Regions from separate parts of the Homo sapiens genome. Here region 2 is linked to region 1. Evidence: fine-mapped expression QTL. Tissue or cell type: whole blood. Region 1 holds a variant in brackets; the other region holds the start of a gene. All regions are shown on one strand. Distances are between the middles of the regions.

The links.
Region 2: LINC02325 starts here. The variant in region 1 is fine-mapped to the expression of LINC02325 in whole blood (INTERVAL, PIP above 0.99).

Annotation. Positions count from the first base shown.
Region 1 is chr14:97,493,325-97,496,239 of GRCh38, forward strand. All of the region lies in intron 1 of LINC02325 (long intergenic non-protein coding RNA 2325), which reads left to right. Among named protein-coding and RNA genes, the nearest start is that of LINC02325, 36 kb to the left of the region's middle. The variant T/C (reference allele first, on the strand shown) is at 1,502.
Region 2 is chr14:97,457,197-97,460,111 of GRCh38, forward strand. LINC02325 (long intergenic non-protein coding RNA 2325) reads left to right here and starts at 1,620. Exons shown (of 5, transcript NR_110166.1): 1 at 1,620-1,731.

The DNA of each region.
Region 1 (2,915 bases):
TATAAATAAAATAGGCAGTCATAGAAGGAGAGAAAAAATAAGGAGAGGAAGTATTTGAAAAGCAAATAATAATAGAATAAATGAATAAAAAGAGATTCATAGCCACAGTTCTTATGGAATGCCTAATAGAATCTATAAGTAAAAAATCACTTAGACAACATAATTATATTTAAGTACATCAAAGGAAAAGAAAAAAGTGACAAGCTATCCAAGAGAACATACAGATCACCCATACAGAAATAATATTTAGATTAAAATCTTATTTCTTAATAGCAACATTGAATAGAGAATTATTTTCAAAGTGTTAAATTAAACTCACTTTTAAGTTGTAATCTTATACCAAGCTAAACTATCTCTCAACACACAGGCAATATAATGATATTTTTAAGTGAGTAAAGACTCAGAAAGTTTACTACCCCATCATGCCCTCTCTGAAAACATCCTTGAGAGAAGGGCACCTGAAGGAGGATGTTTTGAAAAATATGGATATTAAGGATGAGCACATAGATTGGTAAAATTTATTGCACTAAGTTTTACCCATGCACACACATGTCTGTGTGTGTTTAAAGTAATATCCAAAAAGAAGGAAGTAAAAAGATAATCTACAACATAAAAAATACAGTTAAAATTCTACATAATATAACGTAATACCATCAAGTTTCCTGTGGTGAGAGGAGGGAATGGGGTTAGGAATAATGTCTGGGCAACTAGCAAAAGGTGAAGACAGCCAAAACCTTTTTATTCTGGAGAAAGCTCTTGATCTAGGTTCTCTCTGGTTTGTCCACCATCACAAAGCCTGGTTTTACATCCTGGCTTCTCTATTCTATGCCTGTGCCACTTTCTGGACATTTCTCCAATCCTTGGTTTCTCATCTCCAAATCCTGGATAATGAGGCCAGCCATGATAGGTTATTCATGGAACTTTGATATAGAGCCTGGCTCCCACTGGATGACAGCCCTAGGTACTGTACAGATGTTAGCCCTCTTTGTCACAACCCAGAAAAGTATCCTTTTTGACAGTAAAAATGTAGCTTATGTGTCATCCTCTTTCCCAGACCTTGGCACAAGGTATGCAGCAGTAGGACACTCTTCTCATCTTTGGAGGCTGAAGTAGCTTAGAGGTATAAAGGGGTAAGTCAGATCTGAAAATCCAGTTTATTTCATTCAATTTTGCAAATACAATTTACAAACTTGCCTTTTCAACCAAATATGTGTATATGGCTGAAGAAATCGGGGCTCCTGCAGTGCCATTAATTGCCCAGTTTGTTTCTTGGGAGTAGAGCATGGGCACTAACACATGTTCATTAGACGTCTTAATTGGAAGCAAAAATCACCATGGACACCATGGACACGATTTAAAAAGAGTAAAGCATGCTGGTCAGTTTTCATTTGGATTTTGTTTTATTTCATTTTATTCCCAATTCTCCCAAAGCCCAGGAACAGCAGTTCACGATAAAAAATAATGGCCTGAGAAATGTCCTTCTGTAACATCCCCACAGCTG[T/C]GTGAGTTTGCATAACTCGAATGTGCCTAGTGGGACCCATTTTGTTCTCTGGCCCTGCTGAGAGTGAGTTGGGGTGCCTACATGTGAGTGGCTTGGATCCCCACAACTGCTACCCTGGCACAGCCCAGAAGATGGTCTTAAGAGAACAATATCTTCCCTTTTGCTTCTCTGCTTTATTGCACTTGTTCAAGTGACAGCATTCCAGAGTTCCCATCCTCTTGTCTGGATGTCCTGCCAGGGGGCCCTTGAAAAAGTCTTTATATCTCCAAAGATAATAGAGCAACTTGCCACTGCCACTTGTCTTTCTACCCCCGCCGTGTAGATTTCCCCTGGATCCTGGAATGACAAAAGGTTCCAAACGTGATAAAGGACTTCAATGGGATTGGACACGAAGAGGTGTGCGGCAAGCCCTCCTATCTCTTGGCACTTTTCTCTTTATTCTTTGATTAAAGTCTTTTCCCTTACTTACATCCCCCATTAAGATGTCTCAGTGTCATTTAGGGTGTTAATTGAGAGGAGGTTTAAGCTCATCAAAGCGATTATAAGTGATAGTTAAAAATTTCTATATATGGCCTGTGCTGGAATCGGCACGGTGGGGTGCCATTTTTTCTTTTATCCAACTGACATTGGTAATAATAGATGAAATTATTACTAAATCGCAGCTGCAGAGATGATATCATGATTTTTTGTGTGTAATCTTTGATGAAAAATTAATTTTTGAGAGGGATAATTTAAAATGATTTAAATAGTATTATACTGAAGTCCTTGCTGGTAATTAACACCAATCTTGTCAGAAGGGAAACCACTTTTGCAGCTGTTTCTAAAGATACCTACAGTATTTGTAACTTTTCTGCGAGTAAAATTATAGTGTTTGGACTTTATTTTTACTGCACAAGGACCATTAGAAGAAAAGGCGTCAGATAGAAACCTTTGTTCTCTGAGACCTGAGTCCTGTTTTGTATTTGAAGGCCCTGATCAATGCCTGTTTAATCATCGCTAGACTATGGACCAGAGTAAGGCTGGGTCTTTATTTTTATTTTTTCAATATATAAAAGTATTCATAGTGGATGCTGCATACATACCTCTCTTTAGTTCTTAATTATTAGTTACGTAAGAGCATACTACTTGATGTGCACAGGATTTAATTAACAGAACAGATGGCTGCTGGTCAGAATATTCCTTCATCTTCATCAGTGCCTTGACTTTCTTCAAAATCCACTTCTTTCATCATGGTGGCAAAAGCTTTCTAACATGGAACAGCTGAAAATAGATTTTTCTTCACTAGTTTCTTCATACTTTAAATGACAGAAGTGAGAGAGTGAGGGGTGTGTGTGTGTGTGTGTGTGTGTATTGTGTCCTACGTATAAAGACCAGCAAGAGAATAAAAAAAGAAATATAGTGAAATTTAAATAGC
Region 2 (2,915 bases), 36 kb before region 1:
CTTCTGAAGGCACATTGCACCTTCTAGAAGGGTATGACTCAGAAGGAAAGAGAGAAAAACCTCTACTGGCAAGAGGAAATGGCTGCAGTGTTTACTTTATCTGAAAATGGCACACGCTTTTATTAAGACATAAATGCCAGTGATGGATTCTGCTCTTGGCGTGTGGCTGTGCTCCCCAGCCCTGAGGTGAGATGGTCAGGAGATGTGAGACCCTACAGAGAAAATATTTACCATGCTGAGCTGTCATGAGACAGAGTAAGTGGGCAGAGGGCAGCTGGTTCCTTTGACCACCTCATTCTAGGGAAAATAAACAGGGACCCTGGAGCAGTCACTAACAGAGGGGAGCAAGTATCCTCTCTCTGCAGTAGAATCTCTGAAAATTCGGATAACGTTAATTGTGCCACTGTGGTGGCAGTGCAAGAAATTCCTGTTCATCCCGCTGCAATGATGATTAAGGTAACAAACACCCAGTCGGGAAGTCAGGCTCCGGCCCTGGAGAATAGTTGAGGATCGCCTGTAGCATATTGTTCCACTCTGCTGGCATCCTAACTAGACAGCTTTAGTTTTAGCATAAAATCCATATTCCAGACCTTTATGGAGCAGAGAGGCAAACTCCAATGCTGCCGTTGCAAGCATCAAACAGCATTAGAATGAATTAAGGAGATTTAAGACTCTCGATGCTGTCGGGGCTCTTCTCCATCCCCTCTGTTTTCTCCAAGGAGCTGTTTTAAAGGCGTGGGGGGCAAATTGGAAGAAGGGAGTGGGAAAAACGCAAACCAATCACGCTAACCTCGCTCCGGAATCGAAGTCTGACTCTGTACCACGCATGGATTTAATTGGGAGAGAGGTCTTTTAGAGACACTCTGGGTGGGTGCATAGATCAGTCTGGAGTTTCACAGTACGGCTTCTTCCAAGGTCAGAGCATGTGTCCAGGGTCTTCCCCGCTTCCTGGTGGACGGGAAGGCGTCTTCGGTCCGGTGGTTGACAAAAAATCCAAAGAGGGCGTCAGATGTGTGCACTCTGGTGTTTGGAATTTAAGTAAAATCTGTAATTTTCCTCCTGCATTTCCTCAGAGAAATTAGCTATTCTATTCACTGCATAAATTTTCAGGTTTTGCTAGCACGACACTCAGGGTGTTGAATTTTTTATGACAAAAATGCTGTAATAATTGTTGAACAGATGTAAGTGTTGGAGACTCGGCTCTGGCAGACCTCACGAAACCTCGATTAGCAATTTAACCCTGTCCTCCCTCCTGTCCGCACGCCGGGGAAGAGGAGTTGCAGTTTTGAATGGCTTCACTGGGATATGCACAAAGGCAGAGAAAGAGTTTTCTGGAGAGCAGGGGAAGTCCTTTAACGAGCTCTTATGCCCAGCCAGAAAAGGAAGAACTCGGTGCAGCCTAACCCTGAAATTACCACATTACCAAGTTGTCTAGCTGGGTGATTAATAAACTAATTGACACGGGGGACACTTGTCACTGGCGAAGCAGCTCCCTAGCCAAAGCGAGGAGCAACTACATAGCGTCTCCCGGGGAGCTGGGAAGTGACAGTCTACACCCGCTTCCGGGCTCCCCGTGACATAGGCCAGCCGGGCCTCCATTTACACCTCAAAGCAAAGTCACAGAGGGATCCGCCCCTTTCCTGGCTGCCTACACAGAAAGCAGCCATGGGAGACTTGCCGAGGACTTTGTCCACCAAGTGATGAAAGCATGCAAATGCCTCCGAATCAAAGGTAAATCAAAAGAAAATGGCAGCCCGCAAGAGGAGGCGGCGGTGACAGCCCGTCAGCCGTACAGCCACCCGACAGGCCTGGTGGCAGCGTGGAGGCTGCCAAGAGAACCGCCTGAGGAGGCTGCCGCCAAGACAGATGTCACGGCGAGGAGGGCGCGCTTCCGTCGCTTTCGGCGGGGCCTCATGGAGCAGGAAGTGGTACTACATGTGCCACTTAAGAGAATAATAATACTAATAAAACTGGGCGTTGTGAAGGGGGAGAGGTGGGGGAGAAAGGCTGGTTAGAGAGAGAGAGAGAAGAGGGGAAAGGCATGTCACAGTGTTTGGTAAAGGAGGAACTGAATTGATGGCCATCCTGAAGTTTGTGTGTGTGCGCACATGTGCGTCCTTTAGCAGGCTGGCTTTCCCTAGGCGCTTACAGCATCTTGAGAGGCATTGTGCTGGTGGAGACGTGGGGTTCTGGTGACAGCTGTGTCTTTGCAAGAGAGGAGAGGTGACCACAAGGCCACAGAGGTCCTCTAGTTTTTATAGCCCTCTTTTCTGCCTTTCCTGGAAATTGACTTTTGGTTTCCTGCCAAGATTGGGTTGCCCATTATACAAAAAAGCAGACTCCTGCTTGGGGCATTGCAGAGTTGCAGAGATGGAGGGAGACAGAGGCAGGTGAGGAAAGCCTCAATGTCTGATTTTCTCTGTGTCTGCCTCTGTGTTATTTGCGGATGGGTCGTGAGCCCCAGCCCAGCAGCCCACGATATTCGGACCTTAAGTACTGAAAATAACCTACTCCCCTTTTCATGGGTATTTTAAATTAAAATTAATATATAACAGGCCAGGTTTAGTGGTTCACGCCTGTAGTTTTCAGCACTTTGGGAGGCTGAGACAGGAGGATCGCTTGAGCCCAGGAGTCTGAGACCCACATGAGCAACGTGACAAGACCCCATCTTTACAAAAATAAGAAATAAAAAAAATTAGCTAGGCATGTTGGCATGTGCCTGTGGCCCCAGCTACTTTGGAGGTTGAGGTGGGGAAGATCACTCGAACCTAGGAGGTTGAGGCTGCAGTGAGCAGTGATGGCACCACTGCACTCTAGCCTGAATGACAGGGCGAGACCCTGACTCAAAAGAAAAACGTGAGTGTGTATGTGTATAATAATAATTACATATATATATATAGCCATTACAGCAAGAA